5 linked regions of the Homo sapiens genome follow. The protein of the gene in region 3 purifies or fractionates together with the protein of the main gene of each other region. This does not show direct contact. Each region holds a gene or a part of one and is shown on either strand. Other genes may lie near its edges.

What was found.
Region 1: the proteins of CC2D1B (region 3) and FAT3 purify together in Homo sapiens (affinity purification with mass spectrometry; one large-scale study listed by BioGRID and IntAct). This does not show direct contact.
Region 2: the proteins of CC2D1B (region 3) and PCDH7 purify together in Homo sapiens (affinity purification with mass spectrometry; one large-scale study listed by BioGRID and IntAct). This does not show direct contact.
Region 4: the proteins of CC2D1B (region 3) and ZNF843 purify together in Homo sapiens (co-immunoprecipitation; one large-scale study listed by IntAct). This does not show direct contact.
Region 5: the proteins of CC2D1B (region 3) and NUCKS1 fractionate together in Homo sapiens (co-fractionation; one large-scale study listed by BioGRID). This does not show direct contact.

Annotation. Positions count from the first base shown.
Region 1 is NC_000011.10:92,227,803-92,231,328, forward strand, and holds part of FAT3 (protocadherin Fat 3 isoform 1 precursor), read left to right. Parts: intron 1-3,526.
Region 2 is NC_000004.12:31,143,355-31,147,312, reverse strand, and holds the end of PCDH7 (protocadherin-7 isoform d precursor), read right to left. Parts: 3' UTR 513-3,958; downstream 1-512.
Region 3 is NC_000001.11:52,363,406-52,367,341, forward strand, and holds the start of CC2D1B (coiled-coil and C2 domain-containing protein 1B), read right to left. Parts: upstream 2,801-3,936; 5' UTR 2,664-2,800; intron 1,230-2,663; 5' UTR 1,216-1,229; coding exon 1,147-1,215; intron 1-1,146. UniProt on the Homo sapiens protein: Transcription factor that binds specifically to the DRE (dual repressor element) and represses HTR1A gene transcription in neuronal cells.
Region 4 is NC_000016.10:31,437,358-31,439,811, forward strand, and holds part of ZNF843 (zinc finger protein 843), read right to left. Parts: intron 1-2,454.
Region 5 is NC_000001.11:205,719,162-205,722,687, forward strand, and holds part of NUCKS1 (nuclear ubiquitous casein and cyclin-dependent kinase substrate 1), read right to left. Parts: intron 1,493-3,526; coding exon 1,340-1,492; intron 516-1,339; coding exon 366-515; intron 1-365.

The sequences.
Region 1 (3,526 bases), on a different chromosome or scaffold from region 3:
AATAAGGAACAGCCAAGGAAACCAGGGCTCTAAGAGACAAAGACAAAAAAAAAGCATAATAACTTTAGCACTTTGATGTGCTTCTTATTTAATAGGGTTGGAGTGGGGGAAGTTTTTTTTATTTTTTTTTTAACATTTTACAAGGAGAAAAGTTGTCTCTTAGAATTAAACCGAATGTTGATATTCAATCATGAATCTCAGTTGTTGCCTTTTTGGAACTTGAACAATGAGTGATGCTGGGGCCAGTTTCTGTGCACAGTGCACTGGGATGAGAAAGTTCCCAGAACTGTCCAGTTATAATGTCTTCATATCATCTGAATCACACAGAGAACTCCACATGAAAGGCAGCTGGCTCAGAGATCAGAAATCAGTCAGCTGCTGGGCTGGCTCCATCTCTTGTGGCTGCAGGATTTTCACAGCCAGGGTTTGTTGACCAGCGACTGGCTCTCAAGCCTTTTAGAAATCTTTCTTTCAAATTTTATTTATTCTGGTCTCTGGCGGAGTCATTTTGGGGATTTTTTTAATAGGACCCAGTCTGTCTGTTAACTAGCAATTACAGTTGTGCTGAGCTACTCAAAAATGAAATGAGTAGCAATAAACAGTGGATACCCACTGACCTGTATGCTATACGGTTATTTTGCTAGCCCACAGCCTTTGTAAAGCTATGGCTCTTCAGGCTGCTCACAGAAGAACATTTTGATGTGTCAGGTTATGTTATCATCCCTGCTTTCTTCTTCATACGATCCTGAATGACCTTAGCTAATCTGGCTGATGAATTATGTCAAATAGAAAGAAGTAGGCAATTACCAGGCAGGAGAGGGTATTTAGTCATTACCAGCAGGTCTGAGGAGTGCTCCTGGTGGCTGTTGCGTTGTTATGCTATATTAATAGCTCACAAAGCATAAAGGACTATTGTGGCTTTATTTTACCAGTTGTGGCATTGGGGTATGGCATTCCTTCATAGCCCACATCTGTCCAGTTGCCTGGTGGGTTGGCTTTTTCCTCTAGGGCAAGAAGGAGAAAGATAGTAATGAGGATATTTGATTTTTTTTTCCATTGTGGGGTCATCCCCAGGTTTTTCTTTTTTTTCCTTCTGCAGGAGCCTTGAGTAGGGAATCATCTGATGGGAGCAGGTGGGCCTGTCCATTTGAATTGATTTCCTTTGATTGCTGAAGAAGGACTATTGATGAACCACTTCTTTGCTGATTGTGGCAAACATTAGAATTGGAATGGAAATTTAAAAGAAAGGGATCTGACAGACTTAGAGTGAAGGATTTGTGTTCTGCCCAATTCCTTCCTAGAGTTAGCAGAGCCTCTGATTTCTACAGATATGCATGGTCTTAAAAATATTAAAGGAAGCACAACTCCTGTGTATGCAGTTTTACTTATTGGTGAAATTTTCTGCAATGCTTTTTTGATCTCTAACTGTTGAATATGTCATTTTCATCATCTTTCTACCCAAATTGTGAGGAGTGGGTCTTTGTTTTTTAATATATCCTGACCTCTTGAGGATCACCACAGTGTGACAACTTTCTCTGGGAAGACTCAGAGAGTAAATATCTTTTCTGTGTTTTGGTCGATTTAATTCTACAGGCTTCTCAAACTTACTGAGTTTTCTGTCAATTGCAGGGTATCTACTCCTTTAATAAGCTTTATTCCTTTCCTTGTTTTCTTTTTTTGTTTTTTCGTGTTTTTTTTTTTTTTGTTTTTTGTTTTTTTTTACATTGCCTCCCTTTCTCCAAATTTCTAAGAATAATTTTCAGGAAAGACTGCCTTTCCTTGAAAAAGAAATTCAGCTTAATGACACAGACTGCATTTATTGAGAACATATTTGACACTTGTCTAGTGGCTTCAAGCCAGTTTCTGGTCTACCAAAATAGGCTATCAGTTACATGTAATAGTGACAAATGACCCATTCTAGCAGTTCTGAATTGGAATGGCATTTTCAGGTTAGTCTTAATTTTAGCATATTCCAGGACTTAGATTTTTTTTCTTTTTTTTTTTTTTTTTCTGCTAAGTGGAAGGGATGAAAATTTGAGAATGGATTAACTGGCATGATGATAGAAAATAGAAAACAGATTTCAGAACTTAATCAATTAAACTCTTCACATAAACAAAATATTACTTCCTTCACCAGATAGATATATATGAATGTGGAGAGCCTAGAGGAGGTGTGAGGAGGGCCACAGCATTGTCCTTCCTTGAACAATGCATTATTGAAGGTGTTGCCTACCGTGGGCGGAAAAGTCATACAGAGGACCCTGAGAGGAGTCCTTGAGCAGTTGTTAGTATTTCAACGTTCTGCTCTTCCAGGGTTCCAAAACTGTGAATTATAGACTCTTTAATAAAGGAAAGTTGTTTCTTTAACTTTTGCCTTTGTACATCTGAAATATATCCCTTTTTAAAATTCTGTAAAGTCACATGGAATTTAAAATAATTTTTTGTCTTTAAAAAATGTCTTGCTTTCTCCTCTATTTTCCCTATTTTATTTTTGTTATTTATTTATTTAGAAACAGAGTCTCGCTCCATTGCCCAGGCTGGAGTGCAGTGGCGTGTTCTTGGCTCACTGCAACCTCCGCCTCCTGGGTTCAAGTGATTCTCATGCCTCAGTCTCCCGAGTAACTGGGATTACAGGCGCACACCACCATGCCCTCTTAATTTTTATATTTTTAGTAGACAGGGTGTTTCACCATGTTGGCCAGGCTGGTCTCGAACTCCTGGCCTCAAGTGATCCACCCACCTCGGCCTCCCAAAGTGCTCGGATTAGAGGCATGAGCCACCGTCCTCAGCCCTGTTATTTATTTTTTAAAAAAATTATTTTAAAGTTCTTTTCAGCGATATTTACTGAATCTACCTCTTTCACAAGACAGTGGGCAAGATTCAAAGAATAGTAAAATATATCCATTGCTTCTGCTTCGTGCTGTTTATTGAGAAAATGAGAGATGCCTGTGTGTGTACACTAGAAGTCACATCTAAAAATGTTTATTAATTGACAAAAGAATGTCTATGAACAGGAGCCTCAAGGAGGAGGGAGAGATTAATGTGAGGTGGAGTAAACTTTTAAGAGGAGTGTAAGTTATTAAAGTGAATATAATTCCATTTAATAATTCTTACTACAGCCCTAATGTATGCAAGGCACTATGAAATAAATTAATTCCTTCATTTGTCAGGGGGCAGTGCAGAGCTCCTTTTTGGAAGAACGTATTCATGGGGCAGCCCAAATGGGCTGTCGGAATGTTAGTTAATATTTTGAGAAGACTTCAGAATTTATTCATGTCCTTTCTCCACTATCCCCTTGTGGTCTCCCACCCCCCAATTTCAAAGGTAACTTTTAGGATTTTTGAATGTGTCTGGGAGCCTGCATGCAGGTGCACATGGTGTATTCTTAGTCCTCTGTTTTCCTATGTTTGAGACTCAGTTATGAATCTCAAGGTTAACTTTGTCACAGAACACCTCAGAGTGTTCTGTCCTTTAGGTATTCATCATTTAGATCTGTTGCTTGGTTTTTTACCTTAAAAAAATTTGT
Region 2 (3,958 bases), on a different chromosome or scaffold from region 3:
TAAGTTATCGAAGTAAAAATTATATTTTTCCTTTATTTTCTCTACATTTTGCATGATTTTTTAAAGCCTATAACTTTTTTGTATTTGTTGTTAAGTTAGATTAAAAACAAATATTTCCAAAACAAAGATACATTTTGACTTAGGATTACTTTTATCTTAAATGTGAAATTCCTGTAGATGCCTCTGAAAATAAATCAGTCTTCATGTTAATGATGTTAAGTTCCTTTTTCTGCCATACACTTTAAGGTAATAAGCTAGCTAGGTAAATGTCTCAGGAATTATTTTGATGAAACTGAAGGATCCGAGTTCTATTCCATTACGAGGCAAAGTAATGTGACAGTTATGAATGGCCCCCCCTAAATCAACAATTGCTGCCACATTAGCCTCCTTGTTGTGTCTTAATTTACAAGGAATCAAACCATCTTAAATCAAACTGGTACATGCATCCATTCACTTTTCGTCCAATCAAAACTGAATTACCTGTCAACAGAGAAGTACACTTACAAGTGTGAAACCATTTGACCATGTTATATTTTAATTTGCAGAGACAAAAATGACAAGCAATTTATTTACATAAAACTGTACAAAAGCAAATTAAATTATGCAAAGTATTTCATAAATAGTTGGACGAGTGTTTAATACATTTCGCCATGTTAAGCATAGTTGCGTGCATAGTGACTCATAATAAACGATGATAAATTGTTCTCTGCTTCACTATCAACATCCAAGTAGCAGAACAATAGTCAATGATTAACATTACAAACAGATCGTACCACACTGAACGCAAGTGCTTTAAACTGTAGGAAAAGTCTGAAAGTAAACCCTAGGTAGCTGAACAAATGATGCTTCCTCCAGATGTTATCATTACACCTTCACCTAGGTCACAACTCACAAGATTTACTATATTCATGATCATGCTCACTTTTTATTATTTATTTATTTATTTATTTATTTATTTATTTTTGCTTAAGGACACATTTTCTTATTTCTCACTGAGAGCATATACCTAAGATTATTTAGGTCTTTAGATTTCTCATGACTGTTTTTGGATGGCTGTTTGCTTCTTGACAATTTCTTCTGGTCTGTGTGTTTTATTCTATTTTCCTACAAGACAGCTTCCTAGGGTAGTGTTTCAGTCAGACATCCTCAGTACCATCTTAGTTCCTCCTCCCATAAAAATAATGCCTCCCTTGTTTTCTGAAACTCAGGCAGCAGGCCAGTCAGAAACCATACAGAAATGATATCTGGAGATTCAGAAAGAGCAGTAGATTTTAGATTGAAGCTACAGACGTTTTAATACACATAAATTTATATAGTTACTCATTAATTTATAAATGTGTCCTAATGTATAATGCATGCAAAATTCACTTGAGAGTCTTGTGTACAGAAAACAAATATGGTTTATATACTGTACAACCAAAATGAAACCATAGCTGAAAGAAACACAACAAAAAAGAAATAAAGAATAAAACTCTAAATCAGTATTTTACCTTGCCAAATGGACTGATTTCACTCCTGATAGTATCTCTGTGTTACACTTACAATAAACGCTTTCATCTTCTAGTCAGATTTAAGCAGCCCATATTAATGCCTTAACTTTGCTTTATGACATAACAATATTTAAGACTGGTCCATTATCTGAGTTTGTCAGAAGGCAAATTTTTAATATATTATTTATTATGTTCAGAAAATAAACATGGACAAATATACAGGATCAAAAAAGTTGGGAATAGCCCATTTCCCCTCATTGTCCAAACCCAACAACCGTTTTTTTACCGTAACAACAGGTATAAAAGGCACAGTTGCTTATTTTGCATTCACTCATTTATTTTTTTTGTTTCTTTTTATTGATTTTTTTTCAAAAGCACTCTATATATGGAGTGGCACCAGATTTAACCTATTTAAAATAAAAGTCATACAAACACAAAATATATTTCTGTGTCATGCCAGCTCATTATATAATAAACATGTTATGACAGCTAATTCTACTAGAATTACTGTGAATACTTACAGTACACTGAATTTTATTCTTTCACATCCATTTTAGTTTTAAAGAGAGGTTCACGAGTTAAATGACAATGGCATGGCTATCTTGAATGGGGTGCAAACATCATTGGGGAATGTGGATCCAATTAATCCGAAGGTCCGGTGTGACCCGTATTAGTTTTATAGACAAGAGAAGGGTTTAAGATAGGGTGAAATGAGCTATCAGTGGTTTCAATGTCTCATGAAAGAAAGAAATGCATTAAAAAAAAAAAAGTTTGTCAAACATCCGTGTTATGCAATTGAGTATTTTCTTTGTAACGTGCAAGAAAAAATGTGTATACATTTCATAAGTATCTTTAGAAGTATTTTGTCTTAATAGGTACTTACAGATTATACAAGGCAGAACTGCTTTAATGCAGTTTCCTAACAAAGTACTAGAATTGCATCTTTCCATAGTGTAAATAATAATCAAACATAAACATGTTCAATTACTGATATTTTAGTCCAATGTTTTTTGTTTCAATTACATATCTTTTTGCATCCTACCTATTATACATAAACTAACATCAAAATGAAAACTCCATTTAAGAAAGAGCATAAGGAAATGACCCCCAAATTGTACCCCACCAAACAGAGAAGCGGTTTTCAAAGATAAGTATTTTGAAGACCTATAGTGAATTATCAACCTATATTCCAGGCTGTGTCACTTTATAGTCTAAGAAATTCTGCAAAGCATGAAACTACCCAAAGCTACATTGTTTCTACAGTTTGCTAGAGAGCCATCAAGGCTATGCCTTAACCAGCTTGCAAACATTCAGTGATAAGTTTGTTCTCTTCACACCTGTTATTCCCTATTCTGTCCATGGATTGTCACTTTCGTCTGAATGTCCCAGCTCAATTTTCAGCCGTGTTAGGTTATCCTCTATAGAGTGAGTAGCTCAAAATCTGCATATTCTGTTTCTTTTTATTGCACTGGAAAAACTCTGCTTTCACCTTTGAGATATACATTCTGTGAAAAATGTCACTGCCCAAAACTCCTTTCTTTCATGTTCAGTCTAGATTTGTTTAAATAATGTTCAAATCACATTAGTGATAAAGTCAACTAGGGTGTCACCTTGTTTCAATGTTGTGAGTCTCAAAATATTTCTATATTGCACACGATTCAAAATTAATGCACTTGTGGTGCATCAAAGTGTGCACTGAACAAGTAAAAAATGCAATTGTAATTTAAAATGTGGATAAAAAGAGCAGCAAGCATAGCCTGGATTCTAAAATGATAATCGTGGACTTAACTATCAAGACTATATGCCAATGCATCTTTCTTAACCTACCCATGATCCATAAATACTATTTTAAAACATGGAATCTTCCCTGATAATATTACCTGAAACTAAACTTGAACCTCAACCAATTGCCTATTATAATACCAAAAATATATCTCACTAGTTTTCATTTTCTGCGCTTTCAAATAAAATCCATTTTAAAAGAAGGAACATTTTCCTGGGCACTATAAAATGAACTAGTGTTTGATTGTTTCTGTGCATACATGGGTTCAGTTGCTTTTGTTGTTTAATGGTTTTCCACGTCAAGACCAAATCAACTTCATGACTTCCCTGATCTGCCATATGATCTTTGGCCTTTGGATGATACAATTGTTCAAGTTAGTTAATAATAGTGGTCTTGTTCTGAAAAAATATATATAATTTTTAGAAGTCATAACTGGTGAAATTGATACATGTAATCAAGACTGTGTGTATACTGAGAATATTTGGTGAATGTATGGAATTGAAGTTGATGCTCTTGACCTGAAAATAACAACATATGACAATTTAGGACTGCAATCACCCACTGAGTATTGTTTTTCTCTTAGTCTTTGTTGGAATATTAAAGCTTTGATATTCCCAAAATACTTTTTAATACAGTCCCTCTTTCTAAGGACTGTACCTTTAGAGGGACTCTATCACTTTCAAAG
Region 3 (3,936 bases):
AAAAAAAGAAGGTCCTATTTTTTTAAACTCTGGTAAAACACATACAACATGAAATTTACCATCTTAACCACTGTTAAGGGTGAGTTCAATGGCATAAGGACATTCACAATATCCTGCTACCATCGCCATCATCCATCCACAGAACTGTTTTCATGTTGTGAAACAAACTTTCTACCCATTAAACATTAACCCCCCTTCCTCCCCTCCTTCCAGCCTCTGGTAAGCACCATTCTTCTGTTTCCATGAATATGACTACTCTAGGTAGAGGTACATCCTTTTTTTTTTTTTTTTCTGAGACAGAGTCTGGCTCTGTCGCCCAGGCTAGAGTGCAGTGGCACTATCTTGGCTCACTGCAACCTCTGCCTCCCGGGTCTAAGCGATTCTCCTGCCTCAGCCTCCCAAGAAGCTGGGAATACAGGCACATGCCACCACGCCCAGCTAATTTTTGTATTTTTAGTAGAGATGGGGTTTCACTATGTTGGCCAGGCTGGTCTCAAACTCCTGACCTCAGGTGATCCACCCACCTCGGCCTCCCAAAGTGCTGGGATTACAGGCGTGATCCACGGCACCCAGCTTACATTCTGTTTTTATCCCAATGTTCAGATGAAACTGAGACAGTCTTGTGAGACAATCAGAATTTAAAACAAGCTCTTTGCGACTTGAGTCTATGCCCTTTACCCCACCTCCTTTCTTACCTGCCTTTTTAAAGACAGTAAAAATGGACTAAGAAGTCTCAAGATGTAGGCCCAGAAGAAATAAAGGAAGAAAATTGGAGAGGAGACCCCCCTGTTCTTCCACTTGGGGCACAGCCATCTGTCCCTAGGCAGTGAAGTCCTCCCACTGACTACAGCCCTCATGCCCTGGCATCCCTGGCTAACAAGCAAAGTTGTGACCCTATCTAAGGAACCTTTGAGAGCACTGAGGTCCCATCAGAACATCCTAAACTTTGGTGATTCCTGAACCCTCTCCCCACTTGTATGTGGAAGAGACTAGTAGGAGGGTGTCTAAGGGCTCTGCCACCTCCAGGAGGCACTGCTCCAAGTCTCTGAACTAATGGGGGAACTACATGTGATCCAGTTTGCCTAAGTTGTCTAGGGACCCCCATCCCCAAACCGACCCAGTAGCCTAGAAGGCTAAGTTCCATACCTGCTTGGCAGCGGCCACCCCTTGGCCTCTGGCCTGAGGGCCCTTCCGAGGTCTTGGCCCTGGCATCATGGCAGCCTAGATACCTATGGAAGAGTTACAGAGATTCAGGCTGGAGTAGCCCATAAGCCACGCCCCCAACAGTGCTACCCGTGGTAAGGTGTGGATAGTAAACTCCCAAAGAAGGCAATGCTGAACACCAAAGTATGGGTTACCTTTAATTAAAGCACTGAAGCAGCACAGGCCATGGGAGGGATGGGGATCACCTGTTAATGGGTTTACTGAGGAATGTTCTGAACGGACTCAAATTTAAAAAGCACATTCAGGGAAGTACTCTAGGTTCAGGGTGGGTGGAAGGCTGGGTAGAATTCAGAAAGGCTCTAAAGCTGTGCTTATGGAAGCCACAGCTGGCTATTTAATTTTAAATTTCAATGAATTAAAATGAAATAAAGCTAAAAATCCAGTCCATCAGCCACAACAGACACATTCCAAGTGCTTAACAGCCATATGTGGTGAGGGGCTATGACCAGACAGCACACACACAGAACATTTTCATCATCCAAGGACATGTCATCAAAGTTCCATCTCACAGCTGAGCTCTGGAGAAAGCTGGCTCAGCATTCTGATTCCCATAAAGATCTCACAGTTATTCACAGGACCTCCTGTGTCAGACCTTGCGCTGGGCACTGGGAGCGCAGAAATGAACCTAAGACGGTCTCAGCCTTCAATGACCATTTACAGGGTGGAGGTGGACTACACGGGGTTGCCCCAGGGGCCATGGGTGCCCTGAGGTGACCCCTTCTTCAGCCCTGGGAGAAAAGGCTCCTCCTTCGAGGCGGTGACGCCTGAGCTGAGTCACGCAAAGAAGTTGGGGGAAAGAGGGAAATAGGATTCCAAGACGAGGGAACACTTGACGGCTCTGAAGTGGGGAGCAGCTTGGCCTGTACAATGGAACCTGAGGCCTGGTATGACTGGGGCATAAGCGGTGAGGCCTGAATGCACAAGCCGAGGTGGAAATGTGAGCAAGCGGCAGAATATGAAAACCTCTAAGCCGAAAAGCGTTTGGGCATTATTCTGAGGGCGCTGGGAAAGAAGTGGCGGGATCGTATCGGTGTTTCAGAAACCCCATTCTGGCACCAAAGGGGAGGTGCACAGAAGGTAGGGGGAAAAGGCAGGAAGCCGGCGCATCTCGCCACAGCGCTGGCGGGGAGACCAGCTGACGGGCGTGGAGGCGGCGGGGAGCGGGCGGAGGAGCTGGCGGGCGCTCCGGGGGACTCTGAGTGTCAGATTTCGGGAGTGACTCCGGCTCAGGTGAAAGCGAGGCCAGACACTCCAAGGCTGCGGCCCCGATGACACAGCCAGGCCTCACGGAAGGTGGGCAACGGAGTCCGTAGGGGGAGGCGACACGGGACCCCCACTCCCGCGCTGCGGGACGCGCCGCCCTGCCCCGCCCGCGCCGCCTCCATCTACCCCCGCGGTCCCCAGAACTCCCCACGCCGAGGGGCGGGGACGCGGCATACCTCGCGGTGAATCCGAGCCAAACCCCGGCCTTGTCTCACCCGGCACCGCCCTGGGCTCCCGCGGGCCCTGGGCCGCAGCGGTAGCGACAGGAAGCGCCAGCAGGGGAGGTGGCTCGCGCGCAACACGTGACCCCACTGGCCGGCGGCCGGCAGTGCGCATGTGCACGGCTACGCGGGCGGGGGGCTCCAACAGGTGACACCGGGGCGGGGTTCGCAGCGCGCAGGCGCGTTCGGGTAGGTAGCGCAGGACAGGAACTCTGGGCGGTTCCGCCGGGGCGTCCACCGGCCGGCTCCAATGAGGTCGCTGCGCCCAGCCCTCGCCCACTTGCAGCCTCTCCACCGAACCTCCTCCCTCACTCAGCCCGAGGCGCTGGGCGCTCGCTCGCTCGCTGGACCTACCCCGCCTCCAGCCCTCGCCCCGCCCCACCGAGCAAGAGGGCGGGGCCTACCCAAGCTCCGCCCTGGAAGAGAGACAGGGGCGGGGCTCACCTGCTTGTCCATGTCCTTTAAGCCTGGGGAAATGGAAATGGGGCCCACCATATGTTTCTTAATAATTCAGCACCTGAAAGTATCCTTTTCCGGTCCGTTGAAAACTTCAGACAGGCAGAGCTCGCTGCACATCTTAAATACTTTACAGAGTCTAACACTAAGTTCTCACTCGCCTACCCTGCTGTGCAATCAAATGGCATGGAGGATATTAAGGAGAGAAACGGAGTATACCCGTTTTCTGCCAAGCTTGTGTCAGTCACTTTTCATAATGGAGCTTATACCAGTTCTCAATCCTGCAAGATGGACATCATCTCTAGAAGAAACGGAGGCTCAGAGAGAATTATTTGCCCAGGGAAATACAAAACCAACCTCTTTAGCATCAGTAAATATGCTCTAGTCTAGTTTTCTAAGGAAAGCACGTTTCTCCCTGCGGCTTGCAGAGTCCAGTTAACAAGAGATTGAGCTCAGGAGTCCGAGACCAGCCTGGGCAACATGGCGAAACCCTGTCTCTACAAAAAATTACAAATATTAGCCGGGTGTGGTGGTGCGTGCCTGTAGTCCTACCTACTGAGAGGCCGAGGCAGGAGAATCGCTGTGGCCCCGGAGGTCCAAGCTGCAATGAGCTGTCAACTGCACTCCAACCCGGGTGACAAGGTGAGACCCTGTCTCAAACTAAAACAAACAAAAAAACCGAGAGCGGAGTAATGGGGAAGTGGCCAGATTCCCATCTAAAGTAACCACTTCGATTTTGGGGGGAAAGAGAACGGCTTAAAAGGAAAATTTG
Region 4 (2,454 bases), on a different chromosome or scaffold from region 3:
CAGTAGTACGATCTCTGATCACTGCAACCTTTGCCTCTCTGGCTCAAGTGATCCTCCCGCTTCAGTCTCTCAAGTAGCTGGGACTGTAGTTGCACACCACTAGGCCCAGCATTTTTTTTTTTTTTTTTGGTAGAAGCTGGTTTTTATCATGTTGCCCAAGCTGCTCTCAAACTCCTGGGCTCAAGCGGTTGGCCCACCTGGGCCACCCAAAGTGCTGGGATTGCAAGCATGAGCTACCATGCCCGGCCTCCTATAATCAATGTTTTTTTTTTTTTTTTTTTGAGAGGGAGTCTTGCTCTGTCACCCAGGCTGGAGTGCAGTGGTGCTAGCTATGTCGGCTCACTGCAACCTCTGCCACCCGGGTTCAAGCGATTCTCCTGCCTCAGCCTCCCGAGTAGCTGGGATTACAGGCGCCTGCCACCATTGCCGGCTAATTTTTTTTTGTATTTTAGTAGAGACAGGATTTCACCATGTTGGTCAGGCTGGTCTCAAACTCCTGACCTCATGATCCACCCACCTTAGCCTCCCAAAGTGCTGGGATTACAGGTGTGAGCCACTGCACATGGCCAATCAATGCTTCTTAATAGTAAGATTTATTTTAAAATTTGGATTGGGGTTATAAGACTTTCAGTAGTCTTGGATATTACCATCTTTATCCTGAATGAAAGTGTAGCAAGAGGCTGGGCGCAGTGGCTCATGCCTATAATCCTAGCACTTTGGGAGGCTGAGGCCAGAGGATCCTTGAGCCCAGGAGACTAACCTGGGCAACAAAGCAAGACCCTGTCTGTATTAAAATTACAAAAGCGTGGTAAGGATCATTTCCTCATTAACCTTGAACATCCAAACACAAACCATCAAAAAGAATCAACTTCAGAAAGACATTATTGCTTTATTGGTTAAGGTGATTAAAAGAAGGGGGCCCCTCAGGCCACAAAGATAATTAACTGATTGTCACAAACCATATTGAAACTCTTTTTTAAAAAGGGTATAGATAACTTTTAATTTACAATTTTAACAATCAAAGTAGCCAAGAGTAGAGTTTGCAATAGGACTAGAAAGTATTCCAGTGGCTCATATATAAGTGGGCTAATTTTATCTATTTTTAGGCCTATTAGGCCTGTCAGTCTGGATTTTCCATTACTTGGAAATGGGGACTGGGGAACAGATGCTTCTGGCCACTCTGAGCCCTGGCTTGATCCTTGGGTCTCATCTCTCTCTCTCTCCCCGTTTGTGCTTCACCTCTCAGCGGATACTTGGCTCTTATCTCAGGACCTGACCTCCCACTGAGCTCCAAGCCTGCAAAGCATGCTGCCACCCAGTTATTTCCCCCTTAACATCCTGCCATCACTTCAAATTTAATACCCCTATGCCAAAAAATCACTGACTCCTAATTTCACTTTTGTTGGTGGCACCAGTTTTATTCTCTTGGACACCTAAGCTCAAAAACAGTGGAACTTCTTTTGACTCATCGCTCTCCTTCCTTCCCTAGAAGTGAGCTACCATTTAAAAGTGATGTGCTCATTCTCAGCAAACTATCCCAAGGACAAAAAAATAAACACCGCATGTTCCCACTCATAGGTGGGAATTGAACAATGAGAACACATGGACACAGGAAGGGGGACATCACACACCGGGGCCTGTTGTGGGGTGGGGGGAGGGGGGAGGGATAGCATTAGCAGATATACCTAATGTAAATGACGAGTTAATGGGTGCAGCACACCAACATGGCACATGTATACATATGTAACAAACCTGCACGTTGTGCACATGTACCCTAGAACTTAAAAGTATAATGATACAAAAAAAGTGATGTGCTATCATCAGTCACCCGAGAAATGCAAATTAAAACCACAAGGAGTGCCCTTATGCACCCACTAAAATCGAGCAGACTGAAGGTGCTAACTGTTGCCTGAGGATATGGAGTCTCACACATTGCTGGGGAAATATAAAATGGCCTGGGCATTTTGGAAACCAGTTTTGGTTAACAGTAAATTAAATGTACACTTACCACATGACTCAATAATTCTACTCTTAGGATTTACTCAAGGAAAATAAAAACATATGTCCACACAAAGACTTTTTCACAAATGTGCATATCAGCTTTATTCATAATAGGCATAAGATAGAAACATCCAAATGTCCATCAATGGGTGGAAGAATAAAGTGTGGTTTACCCATGTAACAGAATACTAGCAACAAAGAGGAACTGCTGTTACCTGCAAGCAATGGATGAATCTCAAAATTATGTTAAACCAGAGAAGCCAGACACAAGAGAATACATACTATATGATTCAATTTCTGTGAAATTCCATTTCTACAAAAAGCAAAACTTACTCATAGGGGCAGAAAGTAGACCAGTGGTTCTCTGGGGCTGGGTCAGGGAGAGAGCAGCTGACTGCACGGGGCATGAGAGGGTGACGGCAAAGTTCTGCACCCTGAATGTGATGATGGTTA
Region 5 (3,526 bases), about 150 Mb from region 3:
TTTCACAATTAAGTCTTTGCTGGCTGCTGAGACTGTGATACCAGTGAGGAAAAAAGAGCAGTAACAACTATGATGACACAGTGTTTCTACCACTGTGTCTGAAACAAATAGATCATTCTGAAATCTTGCTCAAGTACTGGCAGTAGTTGAAGAACATGGCTAAGCCCACTAGACTCTTAAACAGGCTAGTGTCTTTATTAATAAGAGATACTTCCAGTTGCAGAATACAAGACCCTTTTAGATTTCTTGTATTCCTGCTAAACATCAGGCCAATGCCAAATCCTAATGAGGAATTTCTGTATTGAAAATAATGATTCTCAAAATTTTTAAAGCAGTAAATTTAATTTCACTTCTGCAGAAATTACCTGTAGCCTTTAGTCTGGGTTTGGGCATTTTCTTTTCTTTTCTTTCAGGTTTGGACTTCTTAACCATCTTTTTGTTTTTCTTTTTCGAACTGCCATAGTCACTATCGTCATCATCTTCCATTAGGAAATCTTCATCGCTGCCGGAATCTTCTGAGAAGAAAGAAGAATTTCAACATCTAACTTAATGTACACATCCTTCCAAGTAAAAAAGGAAGAGAGTGCTAAGAATGACTAGAGGATGGGATTTGGGAGTCAAACACCCTTGGATTCTATTTGGAGCTGTACTACCAATTTGACTGGAGTCATCACTGGCCTCATTTGTCAAATGGATTTTGCATGCACCTTACATGAGAGAGTTACATGAGTGATGTGTTTGAAAAGTAGATTGAAAACAGGAAGGGTAAGAGTTAATCTGAATAAAAACTGAAACTATCAAATAACTTTTGGTAGTTCCATCACTTCCAAGTAGTACTGGTTGAGACCAGGGAAACAAAACTGAACTGACAGGGCCTTTTTGGTCCAATTATGAATAAGTGAAACAAGAAAACCAAACACAAAACAAAAATACATAGGATTAACTAATCTGAATAACCTGTGAAACACCTAAATTTTATTATTAACATGTTTTTTTCTGTGAAAAGAGGTCTACAACCTCCTCCACCAGGGCAAAATACAAATCTCAATCACAATGCCTAATGTGACTGTTACTTAAGCAAATTGTTCATTCAGTGTTTGAACACAGACATCATTAAATAAAGGGTGCAACCATTACAAATGGTGGGCAATCGTGAGAATCTCTGAACCTTTAAAAATATTAACAGGAACCAATACAGTCATCTCTTTTAACACGGAGTATCTACCCAATTTAAGGGACTGGTTGTAACATTTAGCATCCTAGAAAATGCCAAAGTAACCAAGGTCACAAACTACAATTATGACCAAACAACCAAAGTACACAAAACAACTTCACATACTCTCCTGGAATGGTGCCTCATCCTCCTCTTCTTGTTCTTCCTCACTGCCCACATCTTCCATGAGCATCTCTCTCTGTTTAGAAGCTGCTTTAGATGCCGCCTGCCGTTGTTGGCGCACATTTTTATGATCTTCTTTTTCATCTTCACTATCCTCTGCAATATCAGAATTACCATGATATAATGATTAAAGAATTTTATATTTGACAAGATAGTGCAAAAGATTAATAATTGACTGAAAACATAACTGACTGAAAAGGCCAACACAGTGGCCAATATAGGATATAATCTGCAGCTTTATTTCATTGTAAAAGGGCAAATTCTATCCTTCAACATTTCTGCAAAATGATGGAATCAACTCAAATGCCCATCAATGATAGACTGGATAAAGAAAATGTGGTACATACACACCATGGAATACTATGCAGCCATAAAAAGGGAAGGAGATCATGCTCTTTGCAGGGACATGGATGGAGCTGGAGGCCATTATCCTCAGCAAACTAATGCAGGCACAAAAGACCAAACACTGCCATGTTCTCGCTTATAAGTGGGAGCTGAACAATGAGAACACATGGACACAGGGAGGGGAACAACACACACTGGGGCCTGTGGCGAGGGAGGGGGCAGGGTGGGGGGATGGAGAGGGAGAGCATTAAAAATTAGCTAATGCATGCTGGGCTTAATACCTAGGTGATGGGTTGATGGGTGCAGCAAATCACCATGGCACACATTTACGTATGTAACAAACCTGCACATCCTGCACATGTATCCCACAACATAAAAAAAAAAAAAATTCTACAAAATGTATAAAGGGGACCTAAATTCACAAAGAATGAACTTGGACAAGACTATGTAACCACTATTACATATAAAGTAACAAGGGAATGTAATTTTAAGCAGTAGACAAGCTGAATTAAAGCGTGAATACATGACTCCTATACTTTAAAGTTACATCATTGCTTTGCTCTACAATTCTCAATTACATTCAAATCTATGTTCACTGTTTTTGAAAGCTAAAGTTAGAAAAATATCTTAACATAGTATGAGAGAGAAAGAATGTCTTCCAATAATCTTTATTCTAAGACATAAAACACGAAAACCCTAAAATAATGTCAAACTGTTACCCTTTACAATGAATGGCTTGTGACCATTTCAATTTAGAGGGGATTGTGGAAAACCTTTTTTTTTTTTTTGAGATGGAGTTTTGCTCTTGTTGCCCAGGCTGGAGTGCAATATAGCGCAATCTCGCCTCACTGCAACCTCACCTCCCAGGTTCAAGCGATTCTCCTGCCTCACCCTCCCGAGTAGCTGGGATTACAGGTGCGCACCACCACTCCTGGCTAATTTTGTATTTTTAGTAGAGACAGGGTTTCACCATGTTGGTCAGGCTGGTCTCGAACTCCCGACCTCAGGTGATCCACCCTCCTTGGCCTCCCAAAGTGCTGGAATTACAGGCGTGAGCCACTGCGCCCAGCTGGAAAATCTTTAAAATACATATTTAGATTAATTAGTGAAAGACATTTGGAGAAGCCTATAAAAAATTTACTTTCACATATTCTTAGAGTCTATTAATGAAAAAAAAATTTTTTTTTTTTTAATTTGGAGTCTCACTCTGTCGCCCAGATTGGAGTGCAGTGGTGCAATCTTGGCTCATTGCAGCCTGTGCCTCCTGGGTTCAAGCTATTCTCCTGTCTCATCCTCCCGAGTAGCTAGGACTCCAGGCACATGCAGCCATGCCCGGCTAATTTCTTGTTGTTGTTTGCTTGTTTGTTTTTTGAGATGGAGTTTTGCTCTTCTTGCTTAGGCTGGAGTACAACAGTGGGATCTCAGCTCACTGCAACCTCTGCCTCCCAGGTTCAAGTGATTCTCCTGCCTCGGCCTCCCGAGTAGCTGGGATTACAGGCACCCACCACCACACCCGGCTAATTTTTTTATTTTTAGTAGAGAAGGAGTTTTGCCATGTTGGCCAGGCTGGTCTCGAACTCCTGACCTCAGGTGATCCACCTGCCTTGGCCTCCCAAAGTGCTGGGATTACAGGCATGAGCCACCGGGCTCAGCCAAATTTTTGTATTTTTGATAGAGACAGGGTTTTGCCATGTTGGCCAGGCTGGTCTTGAACCCTTGACCTCAGGTGATCCACCCACCTTGGCCTCCCAAAGTGCTGGGATGGCGGGTGGGAGCCACCATGCT